Homo sapiens: one gene and its partners. The protein of the gene in region 4 purifies or fractionates together with the protein of the main gene of each other region. This does not show direct contact. Each region holds a gene or a part of one and is shown on either strand. Other genes may lie near its edges.

Region 1 (3,791 bases), on a different chromosome or scaffold from region 4:
GTGGCACATGCCTGTAATCCCAGCTACTCAGGAGGCTAAGGCAGGAAAATCACTTGAACCCAGGAGGCGGAAGTTGCAGTGAGCTGAGATCGTGCCATTGCACTCCAGCCTGGGCAACTAAGTGAGACTCCGAATCAAAAAAAAAAAAAAAAAAAATTAAAAATAGAACCATCCTATGATTCAGCAATTCCTCTTCTGGGTATATACCAAAGGAAATGAAATCAGTAGCTTAAAGACATATCTGCACTCCCATGCTCAGTGCAGCATTATTCACAATAACCAAGATAAGGAAATAACCCCATTGCCAGATGAACGGATAAATTGTGATACATATTTAAAATCACACTGGGCATGGTGGCTCATGCCAGGCGTGGTGGCTCACGCCTATAATCCCACACTTTGGAAGGCTGAGGCGGGTGGATCGCCTGAGCTCAGGAGTTCAAGACCAGCCTGGCCAACATGGTGAAACCCTGTCTCTACTAAAAATACAAAAAAATTAACTGGGTGTGGTAGCGCATGCCTCTAGTCCCAGCTACTTGGGAGGGTGAGGCAGGAGAATCGCTTGAGCTCCAGGGGCGAAGGTTGCAGTGAACCAAGATCGTGTCACTGCACTCCAACTTGGGCTACAGAGTGAGACTCCATCTCGAAAAAATAATAATAATAAAATAAATTCACATTACGTCACAATTATTTTTAGTGCTCTCTCTCTCTCTCTATATATATATAAAGTATACATAGTACAGATTATGTAGAATATTCTATATATTTATTCTATATATTCTATACTATATGTATTCTTTGTGTGTGTATATTCATCCACACACACACATAGCAAAGAAAGCAAAGTACAAAAGAGTACCTCTAATGTGCTACCTTTTGTGTATGAAAGAAGAATAAGAAATATACAAGTACCTATTCATTTGTGGAAAAAGAAACACAGGAAGCAAAAACCAGAAACAAATCAGACTGGCTACCCACAGGAGATGGACAAAACTGGGTGGGAAGGAGGCACTGGAAACAGAGTACACAGGATGGGGAGCAGTAACACTTCTGAGTATCTGTTTTTGTAAAATTCTGATGTTTAGAACCATGTTTGTGTTTTGCCTAATCAAAATAAAATTTTAAAATCAGCAAGGATGGGGGAAATAAAACCCAAATGAATACAAACACAAACAAATGAATCTGTTATTTTAAATGAGTATCATAACCACACTGAAGGAGGGTGAAGGAAAGGTAGAACTGACCCAAGTAACTTTTGAACACAGTATTCTGACTATACTCTCACGCTGAATATAAAAACAACTGTAAAAAAATTCTGAGCTCTAATTAGAAGGTTTATTTTCCACAGAGGTATGGATTTACAAATCTGAAACTACTATTATTAGAATACTAAGTGTATTCTATGATGAGCAATTAGATAAACATTGTGGATAATGGGAGTCAAATTTCTTACTGTCAGAGAACAAATACAAATATGGAAAGGGAGAAGGCAGAAATGAACCCTGTGGTATTAGACTATAATTAAAGTATCTGGATGAACTTATTATTATGTAGACAGACAGATACAGAACTAGATATGTGCACAGACATATATACAAACATGTATTTCCCAGCACTGGCCTCTGAGAGGGCCTAGAAGCAATGATACACCAGTAGCAACAAGCACACCTGGCACTCAGATCTTGGTTTCTAAATACCATTTACCACTAAATGGAACCAGGGCTTTTGGTTGGTACTGCCGTCTTCCAGTAATTCACCAAAACGACAAACACAGGGAAAGAGAAGAATTACCCAATATATGTTCTCTAGGCCTTTTAGAAAACATGGAGTTGTTCCTTGGGCCACGTGCATGCAAATCTATAAGAAAGGCAATACTGTAGACATCAAGCGAACGGGTACTATTCAAAAAGGAATGCCCAAAAGCATTACCTGGGAAAAACTGGAAGAGTCTACAATGTTACCCAGCATGTTGTTGGCACTGCTGTAAACAAATTAAGGGCAAAATTCTTGCCAAGAGAATTAACGTGCACATTGAGCACATTAAGCGCTCTAAGACCCAAGATAGCTTCTGAAATGCATGAAAGAAGATGATCAGAAAAAGAAGGAAGCCAAAGAGAAAGGTACCTGGTTTCAGCTGAAGCACCAGCCTACTCCACCCAGGGAATCCCACTGTGTGAGAACCAACGGGAAGGAGCCTGAGCTGCTGGAACCTATTCCCTATGAATTCATGGCATGATAGGTATAAAAAAATAAAAGACCTCTGGACTGCAAAATTGTTTCTCTTTATTTAGTAGAGAAGTGTGGTGTCCTCTCCCCCAAAAAAATATTTAAAGCAGATTTTAATTGTGTCCTAACTCATTGTGTAATGTCTTTACTGTTCAGACTTAGTATTTTTCTTGCTGAAAGATGTGAGGTGGCTTATCGTGCAACAAATTACTCAACTGGTTAGAAAACAATCAGATATTATTTATGAAATACTTGTACTGGTTTGAAGATAGTCCTTCTAAATCATAAAAAAAAGTTTACAAAAAATAAAAAACAGGCCGGGCACGGTGGCACATGCCTGCAATCCCAGCACTTTGGGAGGCCGAGGCATTTGGATCACTTGAGCCCAGGAGTTCAAGACCAGCCTGGCCAACACAGTGAAACCCCGTCTCTACAAAAAATACAAAAATTAGCTGAATGTGGTGGTGTGCTACACTGGAGACTGAGGTGGGAGGATTGTTTGACCTTGGAGGGGCCGAGATTGCAGTGAGCCAAGAAAGCACCACTGCACTCCGGCCTGGGCAACAGAGCAGGACCCTGTCTCAAAAATTAATAATAAACAGATAAACAATAATGGAACCAGGCCTCCTTCAGAGAAATGGCTGGTTCCAGAGCACAGCCAGGGGAAGTATGAGTCTGGAACACTTTGCTATGCCAGAAAGTAATGAAGTATTCAAAGAATAATGAGGGCATATCAAAAGGTCACGGAAAGGGATTCCCACCAGCCATCTGCAATTATTTTAGCATCAAAATAAATAATGAGGCTGGGTACAATGGCTCATGCCTGTAATCCCAGCACTTTGGGAGGCCAAGGCAGGTGTATCATGAGGTCAGGAGATCCAGACCATCCTGGCTAACATGGTAAAACCTCATCTCTACTAAAAACACAAAAAATTAGCCAGGCGTGGTGGCGGGTGCCTGTAGTCTCAGCTACTTGGGAGGCTGAGGCAGAAGAATGGCATGAACCCAGGAGACAGAGCTTGCAGTGAGCCGAGATCGCACCACTGTACTCCAGCCTGGGCGACAGAGCAAGACTCTGTCTCAAAAAAAAAAAAAAAAAAAAAATTAGCCAGCCGTGGTGGCACACACCTGTAGTCCCAGCTATTTGGGAGGCTGAAACAGGAGAATCACTTGAACCCGAACCCAGGTGGTGGAGGTTGCAGTGAGCTGAGATCGTGCCACTGCACTCCAGCCTGGGTGACAGAGTGAGACTCCGTCTCAATAAAAAAATAAAATAAAGGCCGGGTACAGTGGCTCACACTTGTAATCCCAGCACTTTGGGAGGCCAACGTGGGTGGATTGTGAAGTCAGGAGTTTGAGACCAGCCTGGCCAACACAGTGAAACTCTGTCTCTACTAAAAATACAAAAATTAGCTGGGCATGGTGGCGGGCACCTGTAATCCCAGCTACTCAGGAGGCTGAGGCGGGGGAATCGCTTAAACCTGGGAGGCAGAGGATGCAGTGAGCCGAGATCGTGCCACTGCACTACCGTCTGGGGGACAGAGCTAGACTCCGTCTCAAAAAAT
Region 2 (4,288 bases), on a different chromosome or scaffold from region 4:
GTTACACATGCTTCAAAGAAATGGTCAGCACAAAAAAGCCCACTCATAAGACAGTCAGTAAGCATGGTATAGCTCCTGCACATTCAGATCCCTAGAGAATGAAGAGCTGTTTTATCTCTCCAAAGTTTGCTTTTTTCTTGGTATGGTCATCGACGTTCTCCAGATGCCACAGGTTGGAGAGATAAAGGTGAGGGGCTGCCCTCAAGTGGTCTTACAGGCAGAAACTCCTAAAAGTGGATGGAGTGAAAGAACAGGAAAGGACAGTGTAAGAGCTCATTGGAGACACTTCCCAGAAGCCCAGGGGTGAAGGGCAGTGAGTGCTGGAGGCCCGTGTCAGCAGAGGGGCCAAGTGCTACCGAATGTGAATGTGGATGATCATCTTTAATGTGACCCTATGTGTTCTGTATTCCCGGTACGCGGTGCCATATTTTCCTTCAGATAAATTGAACTTAATTAACTCCCATCAGCAACACGACGCTGTCTGAGAAAAGCCATTTTATATGGAAATGTTCGTTGGGTGACGATTATCCAGTATTATTAATAGAATGAGCTCAGGGCCGTGCCCGGAGCGCCGAGGCTGCCCCGGCAGGAGTCGACGCTAACCAGCCTCCCCCATTCAGCGTCGCGAGGCGCGGGTTCCCGCTCCGTGCCAGGTGCAGAGGGCGACACCGGCGACGTGCCACTCCACTCGCCTCCCAAGGCGCCCCCTCAGATGTTTGCGAACGCACACCAAAGCGGGCTCAAGACAATTGCGCCTGAGACGCCGGGCAGGACCCTGCCCTACCCCTCAGGCTCCATTTCCTGTTCCCGCAAATGGTGATGCCATCGCTGCCCTGTCAGCCCCTCTGGGCTGTCGTGGGCCTCCAAGGAGACAAAAACGCGAAGGAGCTTTGTGAACTGTGGCGCGCAGTGCACCTGCATGAAACATGAAATTATGACTAAAAATAAAGAGTACGAGGGGGTAGGAGCGAGAGGCTGAGAGGCCCAGCGAGACAGGAGGCTGCGGGCGGAGACGCTGCGAGCGCCGCCGGGGCGGGCTGACTGGGAGGCGGCTCCGGGGCTGTCGTCCGGCCCCGCCCACCACTGATCCCCAGTGGCCCGAGGGCCCGGCCGCACCCTCTCTCCCGGCCTGCGGGCCGCTTCCCACCACAGACCCCGCCCCGCGCCCTACCCATCACGCGTCCCCGGTCCGGCTCCGGCGCTCACCTACCCCCGGCAGGCGCCGCCCCCGTGCCGTCCCTCCCGGAAGCGCCGGCGGAGCGTCCTCGCATGGAGCGCGAGCCCAGCGCCTCGGAGGCCGCCCCCGCGGCGGCCGCGCTCTTCGCCTGGGTACGTGACTCCGCCCCCGGGCCGGTGCAGGCCCTGAGGGGCGCCGAGATGTGGGAGCTGCTGGCCGCGGCGTGGGCAGTTCAGGGGCTGGGCGGCTGAGGTCCGAGCCGGGCTCTGGGTTGAAGGATCCTGGGCTGGGAGCGGAGGGGGAGCGGAGGAGGAGCGGGCGGGCGGGGAAGGAAGGGTCTTCGCGGTCGACTTAGGGGCCTGCCGGCTGGCGGGGTCAGGGCCGGAGGGGCTGTGGCGCCGCGGGAAGAACCTGCCTCGGGGCAGAGCGTCTGGTTCCGCGAGAGCCCTCCAGCCCGAATAGCGCCTGGAAGACAGCGCGGAGGGCTCGGTGGAGAGGATCGCCCGGTCCCAGAGCTCCGTGGGGCCACCTGTGCCCCCCACACTCCTGATGCCTGGAGGAGGGAGACCCTGTCCCAGCCTGGCGAAAGCATCCTTTAGATGTGAGGCCTGCGGTGTTTGGCCGCGCACAAGGCACAGACCCTGCCTATTTGCTGACACTCTGCTGTGACCGGTTCTTGCATGTGTTGGGGGAGTTGGGCTGCTGTTGGTTTGACGGGAGCATTGGGAGAGACAGGGTCATCTTGATGTGTGTCTGGGAGAGAGGAGGGTTCATGCACAGGAGCGTGGCAGGTGGCCGACCAGCATGCACGGGAACAAGCAGTCGCTGCGTCTTGTGCTTCTTCATAGCACGTATCACAATTGTAATGATGTGTATAATTTATTATTAACGTCAGTCTCTCTGGCTGGAAAGTAAGTGTGGTAAGAGTGGGTGCTGTGCCTGTCTTGTTCACGGTGCCTCTCTTGGTGTCTGGCACATTGTAGGTCCCCAGTAAATACTCGTTGACGAATGAATGAACGAGCATCTGTGTGCCTACCCATGTGCTGGTGTTGGGGAAATACACATGAGTGAAATACACGAGTGAAGGACTTCCAGCTCTTGTGTTGGGGGAGAGCAAAATTATAACCTGTATTGCTGTTAAAATCAGTATTAGTTGTCCAATTTTTAAAGAAGTAATGATCAGTACAAGGCGGCAATTGTTGAATGTGGGGCTGCAATTTGGCAGGAGGGAGAGCATGGCGTGACCTGCGGTAGTCTGGCTGGCTGGGCGTCTTTGAGGTGGCCCGGGAGCTGGGGGTGGAGTTGGGGATTGAATGTGTGCTGTCTCTGGCTTTTTCCAGGCAGGAGACTGGCGTCTGTGTGGACAGAGGAAACAGAAATATTGTTTCAGTACAGACAAAGCCGAATATTAAAGGTTGTAAAATATGTTTAATAGGTTGTTGACACCCTTCTGCTGTGTTTGGAGGACTGGTAGTGTGTTTTTCCTGCTGTATAATCTGAAACTGTGGGGGTGTGTTGGTCGGCTAGGGCTACCATAACAAAATACCACACAACAGAGGCTTAAACAACAGAAATTTATTTTCTCACAGTTCCAGAGGCTAGAAGGCCAAGATCAAGGTGTGAGTAGGTTTGGTTTCTCCCGAGGCCTCTCTCTGGCTTGCAGATGGCCGCCTTCTCACTGTGTCCTCACATGGCTTTTTTCACTGTGTCCTCACATGGCCTTTTCTGTGTGCGTGAGCATCCGTGGTGTCTCTTCTTTTAAGGACACCAGTCATATTGGATTAGGGCCCCACCCTTATGACCTCATTTAACCTTAATTGCCCCTTTAAAGGCCTTCTTTCCAAATACAGTAAGGTACTAAAGGTTAGGGCTTCAACACGTGAATTTTGGGGGAATAAAGTTCGGTTCACAGGAAGGGGATTTACCTTGTTAGGGGTGTGTGTGTGTGTGTGTGTGTGTGTGTGTATGTGTGCATGTGCACGTGTGATATGTCTGGAGTGTTTGTGAGGAAGAAAGGCAAACAACAGTTGTAATAGGTTGTGTTAAATTTCCCTTCGTCTTGCTTTATCCTGGATTTAGGGCCTCTCACAGTGTTACAAAAATTGGTACCGTAATTTGAACCTCAGAGTGCCCATGTGTCATGTTACTTTTCTCCCAGGTGTTCAGCAGCCTTGCACCCCTGGTAATGGGACAGCCACGGAGATCTCAGGGCTGACCAAGAAATCCTGTGCATATATGCTCTATATTCCCCTTCATGCTGAGCAAGTCTTTCATAGGGTCTTACATTCATTCGCCATATAAATATATGTACATCTTCTTTGGGCCAGCACAGTTTCAGATGCAGGGGAAACAGCAGTGAGCAAAGCAGAGTTCCTGCCCTCCTGGAGTTTAGTTTCTGGCAGGGGTGGTGTACAGTAAACAAGTAGTCATATATAATGTAACATCAAGAAGTGGCATGAAGAAAAATAAAGCAGAAAATGAGTGATATGGGGATGCTCTTTTAGATAAAGTCATACAGTTAACCACCTGTCAGGTAAGCTCTGGGCTGCTTCACTGTATGTCCTTTTTTTATTTTTTCTAAGAGACACAGTAAGGTATAGTAAAAGGTGCAGGGCATCAGACTTTTTGCCTACCCAGATATAACTATGGAAAGTTACTTAACCTCTCTGAGCCTTAGTTTCTTCCTCTGTGAAATGGGAGTAATAATGTCCTTCTTAGTTGTTGTGAGGATTAAAGGTGAATGCACAGTATGGAGAGAAGCACTCAGTAATTGGTAGCTAATATTGCCCCCTGTGGGCTTCTGGGACTTATGCCCCTGCTATGGCTTACTCTTCCATCTTTGAGTCCTTGCAGCCCAGGATGGCTGTGAAATAGACTACAAGGGGAAGGATTATGTATGTATGTATGTAAGTATGTATATATGTATTTGTTGTAATTATTTTACATCACCTTTCCTCATTCAGGTGTCTTCAAAAACAAACATATTTAAAAGATTTTACTTCTCATCTCCAGGAAGAACCAGCTAGGAGTAGGTACTTGAATAAATTATAAAGATTTCTGAAATCTTAGTAAGATTCTCTCTGCAGGTCCACAATCCCTTGTCTTCAATTC
Region 3 (3,791 bases), on a different chromosome or scaffold from region 4:
AATGCAGTCACTCCTCCCACCTTTCATTAAATAGAATTTTCCTTATCTTTGGTACATGTGGTATTTCCTCATAATTAGATTCAAGCTGTACGTTCTGGCCAGAATATCACAGAAGTGATGTGTCTTTCTCAGGGCATCCCATCTGGAAATACGTCATGTCCATCTGCCCCCCTATTCGTGATGCTAATTTTGATTATTTGGTCAAGATATTTTCTGATATTATCACTCTGCAGTTAATTTTATATAGTTACTATTTTTTCCCCACGCAATTAATAAGCAAGTGCTGGAGAGACATTTTAAGATTCTGTAAATATCCTGCTGCACATGAAAAGTTTCCCCCTAGATTGAGCGTCTGCTGATGATTCTTGTGTGATCCAGCATTTACTATGTTGGTTGTAAAACAATGCTTTTCTGACTCCAGTATTCTCTCCACATTCGTAAGTTGGCTCTCAGCATTCTACTGTAAAGAAGGACCCTCCTTTCTCCCCAGGAAGGTGTTTTTGTTTTTTTAAATGAAGGAGACCGTGGAAACTCGCCAGATGACCTGTAGCTCCTGGAGCTTGGCAAAGGCTGGGCAAACGCCCACCTGAAGACTATGCAGGCAATCAGGACATGACACAGAGCCGGGAGAGGCCTGCTCTTCGGCTCTGCCCTGAACCTCATTCGGCAGGTGGAGGTATTTAGGCATTTGAGGGAATCTCAGCTTTGGGAGGCCACTTTGTAAGTGATCTTAAGAGATTAAGTACATCCTTAATTAAAAGAAATGGTAACACCTCCGCCTGCTTGCTGTGAGTTTATTCATTTGAATTCCCCATCTCCCCCAATGGGAAATAACACAGAATTGCAATTATTTATAAAATCTTAAATTGGCTTCTTTTCTCTAGGAAAATAGCCCTTGATTCAATTAATTCCAATCCTAGAAAAGCGCCTAGATATCTGATTGAGGTATTGAGGGAGAGAGGCTGCTCCCCTTGATTCTTTTACTATAATCCAATTAAAGCAACATTTATGGGCCAACTCCCTGGCCATGGGCACAGCTTTGTTTAGAGAGTTGCAAATCCATTCCCACCTCCCCGCTCCCCCAGAAGCTCTTTATTATTTTATTTTATTTATTTATTTTTTTGAGATGGAGTCTCGCTCTGTCACCCAGGCTGGAGTGCAATCTCAGCTCAATGCAACCTCAGCCTCCCGGGTTCAAATGATTCTCATGCCTCAGCTTCCCTAGTAGCTGGGATTACAGGCACCCGCCACCATGCCTGGCTAATTTTTTTTGTATTTTTAGTAGATACAGGATTTCACCATGTTGACTTAAGGTGATCCACCCTCCTGAGTCTCCCAAAGTGCTGGGATTACAGGCATGAGCTATTGTGCATGGCCATCCCAGAAGCTCTTTAAAATGTGGTTTTCCAGCACTGACATTTTAGGATTCCCTAATTCTAAGTTAAATTGTCTGCTAAATGTAACTCTTCCCACCCACTTTTTCAACTTGTTTTGTGCTCAGATACTGACATGCATGTAGAAACACACACACACACACACACACGATTCTGCTCGTTGTCTTTGAGAAATTCAGTGGTTTCTAAAGGGGCATGGCTCAGCTGTGGCCTCTGAAGCGCTGTGGTTCCGCTGACGTGGGATGATAACTTGGCCACGGCACATGCAGTAGGGGGATAGTCGTGGCAGTACTAGAAGTGCAAAGGGGACTGGGGCACAGCATCTCACGTGTTTTCACAGACTTTTAAGGTTGGAAGGTGTCTTAAAAGTTATCTGGGCAGCCCTTTCCCTCTCCATCAAATGATGAATAAAATAAAACTTGGTGAAACATCTCATGTTTCTTAAGCACCTGAGGATTTTTTTTTTAAATTTAAAAGAACACTGCCAATAATTGGGCTCAATGAGAAGGAACTCTCATCGAATTTTAAGCAACATCTCCTAATATGTTTAAAAATTAAATTTATTTTTTTCTCAGCCCCCTGCAACTTCAGCCTCCCAGGTTCAAGTGATTTTCCTGCCTCAGCCTCCTGAGTAGCTGGGATTACAGGCACGTGCCACCGCACCCAGCAAATTTTTTGTATTTTTAGTAGAGATGGGGTTTCGCCATGTTGGCCAGGCTGGTCTCGAACTCCTGACCTCAGGTGATCCACCTGCTTCAGCTCCCAAAGTGCTGGGATTACAGGCGTGAGCCACCGTACCCGGCCAAATCGATTTTTTTGAGTGTGGCATAAGGTTTTCTTAAGGAGAGGCATGTCTCTCTATGGAGGAGACCTAACACCTGCTTCTTTATAAGGCCTTATTGGACCCCTCTTGAAAACTATCAAAAGAAGTTGAAAGATGATTCAGTGTGGCCAGGCTGTGGGACATTCACTCATTCATTCATTCATTCCTCTCTGACATAGAGACTTGAGAGGTGTCAACAGAGGATGCAACATTCTCGGGAGAAGAAAGGCAGATTAGACCTTAAAGCTTTTTTCTAGTCCCTGTTCTGGCTGACTTTATCAGCCAAGGGAAGAACAAATCAAGGAAAGCCAGGGCCTGGAGGGGCTGGGCAGAGCCTGCTGCTGTGTCTGCATTGCCCCTAATCCCAGAAGACTCACTCAACTGCTGGACAAAACCAGAAGGCAGTCTGGCCAGGCCCTTGTCTGCCTCTTAGAAGAAATCTAGGATTCTACAGGAAGGGAACAGTGGCTTATGAAAAGAAAGGCAGGAAGCCTTTTGGAAAGTGAAGCTAAGCCTCCTTTGCATTTGTTCCTGCAGAGCTGGGGGAACAGCTCTTCCCCAACACCTTGGTCAGGTCCCCTTGGGGGCTTTCTGCTGAAGGCTGACGGCTGAGAGTCATAGGGGGAAGGGGGTGATGGTGAATGGGGAGGAGGGTACAGAAAAGACAGGGTCTTAGACTTTGTTTTAATTTTGTATTTAATTATATAAAACATTAATGTATGCCCAAGGTAGTGCATCCTTGCCTCTCCTCCCCACCTCGATTGCCATTTTTATTTGTTTTTTGATTTATCTTATTACTTTTGAAAAAAATCCAACGTATATCTTCCCTTTATTACAAAAGAGGTAGTGCACTCAAATACCATTTCATTTTGCTTTCTCCATATGACAGCATCCCCTGGAGAAGGGTATAGAGGCTGTCCTTGGCATCTTACTCCACTATGTGGACATACCACAGCTTTTTCAATCACTTCCTATTGGTGGACATTAGGCTATTTCCAGTCCTTAGTGTAAATAATGCTGCAATGAGTAAGTACCCTTGAGCATATGTCACACTGTATTTTTGCCAGTGCGTCTTTGTGAACCTTCTCCTTTGGATGGAGAGAGTTGGTTCTCTTCCCATTTCCTGCCAATGAACTTTCTTTTTTTTTTTTTTTTGAGACAGAGTCTTGCTCTGTCACCCAGGCTGGAGTGCAGTTGCGCAATCTCGGCCCACTGCAACCTCTGCCTCCCAGGTTCAAGTGATTCTCCTGCCTCAGCCTCCTGAGTAGCTGGGATTACTGGCATGCGCTACCACACCCGGCTAATTTTTTTATTTTTAGTAGAGGTGGGGTTTCACCATGTTAGTCAGGCTGGTCTCGAACTCCTGACCTCAGGTGATCCACCTGCCTTGGCCTCCCAAAGTGCTGGGATTACAGGCATGAGCCACCGCAACCGGCCCAATGACCTTTTCTGTGGCTGTGGATTAGATATCTGTCCTTCCCTGCATCAAGTCTAGTTTTTGTTCCTCATCCTAACTGTGTGAAATTCCTATGTTTCATGCCCTCCTTTCTTTTTTCTCAGCAGGAGTCCTGGCA
Region 4 (3,791 bases):
GCCTGGATTATATCTCAAGAAAGCTGTTTTCTAAAATGTCCACGGTGTGTCAGAAGACTTTGCTCCTCACCTTCCATTTACTCGTTCAGATAAAAACCTTTCCCTGTAAAGAGATGCCCAAGGGCCCAGCTGCTCCAGCCAGAGGACAACTTCTTCCGCCGTCCATTTGGCCACAGCCTTGTGGACCAGGAGGTCGTGTTCAGATTCCCTGCTGCTCCAGTGATAGACGAGCAGGACCACCTGGGGAAAAGTGACAGGGACTTTAAACCATGGAGAGGCAGAGATGCCAGTTTCTAAATATGCGGGTGGGAGGTGGGGAAAGGAAGAGGCTGAGCTCACAGGGAATGATGCGGAGCCCGTACACAGAAGCAGGGCAACAAAAGCAGGGCAACGCCACGGCCACAGAGAACTGGGGACCACAGCTCTCCTCGGGTGCCTCTCTCTGCTGATTGCGTGGCAGTGAGGGCACAGAGGCGAGAAAAGGACTTATCTCAGGCACCTGGGAGCAGGTGGTGCCTTGACTCCATCAACTTGCTCAACATAACTGACTTGTGCCTTTTCTACTGGAAAAACATTTAGATTTTTTATGCACAGAACTTTAAAAGAAAATAGTCTCCACATTGGAAGTTAGTAAACTGGTGGGTTCTTAAGACTGTATTACCAAGGAGGTCCAGGCGTGGTGGCTCACGCCTATAATCCCAGCACTTGAGGAGTCTGAGGCGGGTGGATCACTTGAGGTCAGGAGTTCCAGACCAGCCTGGCCAACATGGTGAAACCCCATCTCTACTAATCACACAAAAATTAGCCTCTTGTAGTGGCGCATGCCTGTAATCCCAGCTACTTGGGAAGCTGAGGCAGAAGAATCACTTGAACTCGGGAGGTGGAGGTGGCAGTGAGCCGAGATCATGCCACCGCACTCTAGCCTAGGCAACAGGGCAAGACTTCATCTCAAAAAAAAAAAAAAAAAAAAAAAGAGCAAGAGATGTAATCCACATAAAATTCACACATTTGAAGTGCACACAATCCACGGTTTTTAATGTGTTCACAAATATGTGTCATCATCACCACAGCTGGTTTTAGTTCATTTTCACCACCCTAAAAGAAAGTTTTTACCTAGATCGCACCACTGCACTCCAGCCTGGGCGACAGAGCAAGAGTCCGTCTCAAAAACAAAACAAAACAAAAAAAGATTGTATTACCAAGGCAGACATGGTCTTGAATTCCAGTTCTACCACCTTTCTCCATTTACTAGGTACTATGATCTGATCTACCTGAGTAAGCAACATTCCTGAGGAAATCATAGAACCCAGCAGATTTCAATGTACGTAGTAAATTACATGGAGTCACATCATCAATTATTTCAGTGATTTCAACAGAACTGACTTCAGTGGAAATCAGGGGTCGGGGGGTGAGGTGTGGGGGGGCACAGAGGAACACAGTGATCAACTTACTGCCACTCCAGTTAAAGCTGTGAGCACACCGGAAAAGAATCCCCCTCCCATCTGCTGATTCGCTCGGCCTGTGTTAGGAGCTAAAGGAATCTGATCATTCCCATATTTCTGAAAGGCTGCAAGACTTTGGACTATGTCATTATTCTGCTGAATGTCTTCAAATCTCAGTCTAATGGCATCAGGAAATAACTTTTCAATGGCATCCCTATGGAGAATAGAAAAAAAAAATTAAGACAGTTGTTTGACTAAATATCATGTTTAGAGGCCAAAAAAGCCCTGATAGTCAACATCTAATAATATATAGCTACCCTAGGAGAACTGACAAGAAATGTATTATAGTCCTGTGGGTAAAAGCAAAAAATCTGAAATAATCTATTAGGTTGTTTACCATTACTTTCTCCTTTTGTTTTTTTGAGACGGAGTCTTACTCTGTCGCCCAGGCTGGAGTGCAATGGCGTGATCTTGGCTCACCGGTGCACACCACCATACCCGGATAACTTTTTTTTTGTATTTTTAGTAGAGATAGGGTTTCACTATGTTGCCCAGGCTGGTATTGAACTCCTGAGCTCAGGCAATCTGCCCACCGGGGCCTCCCAAAGTGCTAAGATTAGAGGCATGAGCCACTGCACCCAGCCTACCATTACTTTCAATGGTAAAAACTGCAATTACTTGTGCACCAACCTGATGATATACATTTACTACTAGGTAAAAGGCTAAATGAAATATGGTATATTCATACAATGAAGTATCACAATTTTAAATGCATTTGCTGGATCACTAAATGTGTCAAGGTGGAGAAATTTAAGACGTACATAATTGATTTAAAATAGTAAACTGCAGAACCATGCAGAGAGCACATCAATGATGTGAGAAAATACTTGCATTTTCTATTGGCACTTGTTTTTTTTTTTTTTTGAGACAAGAGTCTTGCTCTGTCACCCAGGCTGGAGTGTAATGTCATGATCTCAGCTTACCGCAACCTCCGTGTCCTTCAAGTGATTCTCATGTCTCAGCCTCCTGAGTAGCTGGGATTATGGGCATGCGCCATTACACCAGGCTAATTTTTGTATTTTTGGTCATGTTGGCTAGGCTGGTCTTGAATTCCTGGCCTCATGAGATCCGCCTGCCTCGGTCCTCCCAAGGTACTGGGATTACAGGCATGAGCCACCGCACCCAGCCTGGCACATGTATGTTTAGAAGTATTTTTAAGCCGGGCGTGGTGGCTCACGCCTGTAATCCCAGCACTTTGGGAGGCCGAGGTGGGCAGATCACTTAAGGTCAGGAGTTCCAGACCAGCCTGGCCAACATGGTAAAACCCTGTTTCTACTAAAAATACAAAAATCAACCGGGTGTGGTGGTGGGCGCCTGTAATCCCAGCTACTTGGGAGGCTGAGGCAGGAGAATCGCTTGAACCTGGGAGGAGGAGGTTGCAGTGAGCTGAGATCGCACCATTGCACTCCAGCCTGGGCAACAGAGCGAGACTCTGTCTCAAAAAAGAGTATTTTGAAAAATCTGAGGCTGGGTGTAGTGGCTCACGCCTGTAATCTCAGCACTGTGGGATGCTGAGGCAGGAGGTTCACTTGAGCTCAGCAGTTGGAGACCAGCCTGGGCAACATAGTGAGACCTGATCGCTACTAAAAAGTTAAAAAAAAGTATTTAAAAAAATCTGAACAAAAGCACAACTAAGTCATAACTGAAATTATTCTAAGGAAAAAGGAAAGGATTCTAAGATGGGAAAATAAGGGGTCAAAAGGATCTTTAGTTTTATCAGTAATTTTCCAATATTTTAAAAAGAGGCTGGGCGCGGGGGCTCATGCCTGTAATCCCAGCACTTTGGGAGGCTGAGGCGGGCGGATCACCTGAGGTCGGGAGTATGAGACCAGCCTGACCAACATGGAGAAACTCTGTCTCTACGAAAAATACAAAATTAGCCAGGCATGGTGGCACATGCCTGTAATCCCAGCTACTTGGGAGGCTGAGGCAGGAGAATCACTTGAACCTGGGAGGCGGAGGTTGCAGTGAGCCGAGATTTTGCCAATGCACTCCAGCCCGGGCAACAAGGGTGAAGCTCCATCTTAAAAAAAAAAAATTTTAGCTGGGCATTTGGCCAGGCACAGTGGCTCACGCCTGTAATCCCAGCACTTTGGGAGGCCAAGACGGGCGGATCACTAAAGGTCAGGAGTTCGAGACCAGCCTGGCCAAAACTGTGAAACCCCGTCTCTACTGAAAATACAAACATTCACCAGGCACGGTGGCTCACGCCTATAATCCCAGCACTTTGGGAGGCCAAGGTGGGCGGATCATCTGAGGTAAGGAGTTTGAGACTAGCCTCATCAACAT
Region 5 (3,791 bases), on a different chromosome or scaffold from region 4:
ACAAAGCTGATGTTTTTAAAGATGTAGTTTAAAAACGAAACAAAAAACGTGGTTTGCAGGAGACACCTTGCTCGTGATCCTCTAAAACACAGGTCTCCACTCAGATACCTGCAGGATGAGGACAGGGTGGGCGAGGGAAAGGAGCCAGAGCCCTCCAGGGGTGTGAAGCAGCTTTTCCTGGGTGGGGCTTGGCGTGCTGCGCTCACTCTCCCTGGAGGAGGAAGTGCCTAATCCAGTCCTCTGGGTCTGGGCCCAGGAGATGGGGCCTTAAAGCCTCTCTTGGTAAAGACTAGCCCTGTGGGAACAAACAGGACACCCTCTCCTCTGATTCTGTATCTTCTAGGGGCTCCTACTGTACTTCAGGGATACCTGACCTGAGTTGCAGTCACATTAGCTCCTGGAAAGCCAGGACAGCCCATGTTGAACCCCACTTACTACTGCTGAGGACTGTGCGCCCTAAGGGGTTTGGGGCCTCTGCTCTTGCCACTGGCCTTGGAACACGTGTGGCAGTTCTTCTGCCTCACCCTCACTCTGGGGCATGGCCCACTCTGCCAGGGCATCTGACATGTTCTTTGTCCCTGGCTCAGTTTGGGGGCAGCCCAGTGTCCTGCGCTGTGGGGCTGGCCGTCCTGAATGTCTTGGAGAAGGAGCAGCTCCAGGATCATGCCACCAGTGTAGGCAGCTTCCTGATGCAGCTCCTCGGGCAGCAAAAAATCAAACATCCCATCGTCGGGGATGTCAGGTGAGGCTCTGGGGGCAGCAGTCACCACCCACCTGCCAAGGCCCAGTGTGGTACCATTTTCTTCACCTCCTAACAACCTGGGATGGTGGGGTTATGTCCGCTCTCAAGAGGAACTGAGACACTGAGAGGTGCTATTGCCCAAAACGGCTCTCCTGGGGAGGAGAAAGCTAGGACATGACCTGATCCCTAGCTACCCCTGAGCCTCTCTCCTCTGTCCACACCAAAGATCTCTCCCAGCCCAGTTATTCCCTGAAACTATTCTCACCACCTTCTGAAGGTGCCTCCTGCACTCAGCCCCCTCAGGAGGCACAGGTAGGAGCCCAGAGGCTGAGGCCAGCACCCTGGCCCCTCAGGCCTGGCCTCCTGAGATGTCGTCACCTTCCCTTGCAGGGGTGTTGGGCTCTTCATTGGTGTGGATCTGATCAAAGATGAGGCCACAAGGACACCAGCAACTGAAGAGGCTGCCTACTTGGTATCAAGGTATTTTCTTCTTGAAACAAGTTGCTTCCTGGAGTAGGAGACACCACAGGTACCTCTTTGCAGGGCCAGTGGAAAGGAGCCTCATCTGTACCCCCAGCACTCTGGGCCACAGACTTGATTGAAAGAGGGCTGGGGCTGGCGGGTGGGGGCAGTTGTTGGGGGACAGCTGATCCTATCAGCTGAGGACAGAGATAAGTGGTGTTAGCAGTTCTGTACCCAGTGCCTGACTACAAAGGCTGCAGATGAGACACAGGCTATTCCCAGACCAGAGCAGCACCTCTGCCTAGAATGCCCAAGCTAGCAGGGCACTCAGACCCAGGAACCCCTAATGCCACCTTGGCCTGGAGAAGGGAAACACCTTCTCTATTCATACCAGGGAGCTGTGGCAGCACTAGACTCAGGGTTCCCATGCCGCACGACAGGTGGTTGGGATGGACAAGACTCCTGCTCCTAAGCTGGGTCGGGGGTGTCTCAGAACTCAGACTCCACCGGTCCCAATGCCCTGGTTTGCTTGTCCTTTCACTTGGACCCCAAGTCCTCAGGACTTCTTCTCCTTCTAGTTGAATTGTTATTCCCTTTTATCTCCATTCCCCAGGCCTACCCCTTCCCCCACGCCCACCATGGAAAGCTCTTCTGGTATTTGACGTGTCCTTATTCAAATTGTGAGACACGCGTGGTATTGATGTAAATCTCTGTGCTGTATTTGAACTTGGCCTTTCCTGGTCCCGCCTTCTCTCTGCTGTCAGTCACATCCCCAGCTTACTCCTACCCCCCTCCCAGGAGCCTCAGGGATTCGGAATGGTCAGGTGGCATGGAAGGAAACAGATCCCAAGTTCAGCCCGTGTCTCACAATACCCTGGGGGTGCTTTTCCAGTTCAGTGAGGAAATGGGTAAGTCACCTGCAGTTACCCTGCTAGGTGGCAAGAGCTAGATCTGGCCCCAGGGCCGTCTAACTCCAAAGTCCAAGCCCTGTTCTTTCTGGCGTGGCCATGGTCAGTGCCAGGAAGACTGGGACAGGAAAATGAAACCAGAAGGCACACTCCCCACCCCCAAGAAATAAAAATAACAAGGTTTACAAAAGAAGGGGAACAATGATCAAAGAATATAAACACAATCATGCAGACCCCTCATCTCAGAGATGAGGTTAGACTGTGGACTAAAAGTGATTATTAGCTACAAATGATGTTAAGATAAAGCCATCTTCCTAAGAATAATTGGACATTTTAAACTGGAATTGTAAGATAACCCGGAAGACAGGGCAGGAAGATGCCTGAAGCTGGTGAGGGGCACGTGGAGCTCATTACACCAACTGCAATGTTGGACATTCTCTATATAAGGAAACAATATACATCACGTAAACCACACAGAAAACCAGAGAATGCAGGTGACTCTTGCAGTCTGGCGTTTCCCTGTGGCCATTCATTCTTGGCTTGGACTGTGGCTCCAGGGTTAGGTGAGGCAAGGTGCCTGTTCTGTGGGGCAGCAGGCTCAGGGCCAGGTGCAGTGCACTCCAAGCAGGCTGCTGTGGGCCAGATGCACAGGACTCTGGGAGAGGTGACCAGTAAAATGACCTGGCAGGAACTGGCCCATGGAAGGCTCTGAGGACAGTGTGGCTGGAGCACTGGACATGAGGCCAAGGCCAGGCTGAGGAAGGCCTTGAAGGCCATGTGAAGGGGTGTCCTGTCCTCACAGGCTGAAGGAGAACTACGTTTTGCTGAGCACTGATGGCCCTGGGAGGAACATCCTGAAGTTTAAGCCCCCAATGTGCTTCAGCCTGGACAATGCACGGCAGGTGGTGGCAAAGCTGGATGCCATTCTGACTGGTGAGCTTGAAGCCTGAGCTTGGCCATATCTCTAGAACTCAGCCTGAAGCCAGCAACTAGAGCCTCCTAGCATGGAACAGGGAGGGGACAAGAGTCCAAGAGCAGAGGCACATGTCCTCTGGACAGGGCAGGGAGCAAGAGAGGGTCTTTCATGGCCCAATCTGCTCCTATTCCTGCCTGTACCTAAGAGAGCTTCCTGGGCTGTCAGGAGGTGGAAGGTGAGCCACCACCCAGCCTGCCTGAGCAGGCATCAGATGTATGCAGGACAAAGCAGTACTGGGCCTGAGAAACAGGCCATAAGAACTACAGTGGGAGTTGAGACCCCATTACCGCCAGCCTAGGATGTAGAGATGGCAGGAGTTTCATTCTGTACATGAGACAGGTCACACAAGGCTGCTGGGTGGCTGAAAGATTGGTACCACTGAGGACTGACGGAACTCAAAATGAAAACTCTACCCCACATTCCCCATCACCTAGGATGGTCGTGGTCAACCCAGGGTTCCCCCTAAATCCACTTACAAGGAAATCTCATGGCTGTGTTGCCATTTACAGCTCAGTGAGACCCTAAATAGGCACAGTTGCATCTCACAGTAGAGATCACAACTGCCAGCCAAGCAACCTGTGCCCTCCTACCTCTGGGTGATCACTGCTACCCACAGGTATGCTTAATCCCAGGGCTCTGGAGCTGGGGGAGGCCCATCCCTGCTAGACACAAATTGGAAGTGGTAGGGATATGATGAATAGGA

Evidence for each region.
Region 1: the proteins of BFAR (region 4) and ALDH9A1 purify together in Homo sapiens (affinity purification with mass spectrometry, with the first as the bait; one large-scale study listed by BioGRID). This does not show direct contact.
Region 2: the proteins of BFAR (region 4) and SERGEF purify together in Homo sapiens (affinity purification with mass spectrometry; one large-scale study listed by BioGRID and IntAct). This does not show direct contact.
Region 3: the proteins of BFAR (region 4) and CASP10 purify together in Homo sapiens (affinity purification with western blotting, with the first as the bait; one study listed by BioGRID). This does not show direct contact.
Region 5: the proteins of BFAR (region 4) and PHYKPL purify together in Homo sapiens (affinity purification with mass spectrometry; one large-scale study listed by BioGRID and IntAct). This does not show direct contact.

The regions. Positions count from the first base shown.
Region 1 is NC_000001.11:165,674,550-165,678,340, forward strand, and holds part of ALDH9A1 (4-trimethylaminobutyraldehyde dehydrogenase isoform 1 precursor), read right to left. Parts: intron 1-3,791. UniProt on the Homo sapiens protein: Converts gamma-trimethylaminobutyraldehyde into gamma-butyrobetaine with high efficiency (in vitro). Can catalyze the irreversible oxidation of a broad range of aldehydes to the corresponding acids in an NAD-dependent reaction, but with low efficiency.
Region 2 is NC_000011.10:18,009,992-18,014,279, reverse strand, and holds the start of SERGEF (secretion-regulating guanine nucleotide exchange factor), read left to right. Parts: upstream 1-1,232; 5' UTR 1,233-1,269; coding exon 1,270-1,329; intron 1,330-4,288. UniProt on the Homo sapiens protein: Probable guanine nucleotide exchange factor (GEF), which may be involved in the secretion process.
Region 3 is NC_000002.12:201,199,953-201,203,743, forward strand, and holds part of CASP10 (caspase-10 isoform 1 preproprotein), read left to right. Parts: intron 1-490; coding exon of another isoform or gene 491-550; exon of another isoform or gene 551-777; intron 778-3,777; coding exon 3,778-3,791. UniProt on the Homo sapiens protein: Involved in the activation cascade of caspases responsible for apoptosis execution. Recruited to both Fas- and TNFR-1 receptors in a FADD dependent manner. May participate in the granzyme B apoptotic pathways.
Region 4 is NC_000016.10:14,646,253-14,650,043, reverse strand, and holds part of BFAR (bifunctional apoptosis regulator), read right to left. Parts: intron 1,657-3,791; coding exon 1,452-1,656; intron 241-1,451; coding exon 71-240; intron 1-70. UniProt on the Homo sapiens protein: Membrane-bound E3 ubiquitin ligase that plays a role in several processes including apoptosis regulation or reticulum endoplasmic stress. Has anti-apoptotic activity, both for apoptosis triggered via death-receptors and via mitochondrial factors.
Region 5 is NC_000005.10:178,212,227-178,216,017, reverse strand, and holds part of PHYKPL (5-phosphohydroxy-L-lysine phospho-lyase), read left to right. Parts: intron 1-587; coding exon 588-742; intron 743-1,132; coding exon 1,133-1,222; intron 1,223-2,002; coding exon of another isoform or gene 2,003-2,153; exon of another isoform or gene 2,154-2,908; intron 2,909-2,914; coding exon 2,915-3,045; intron 3,046-3,791.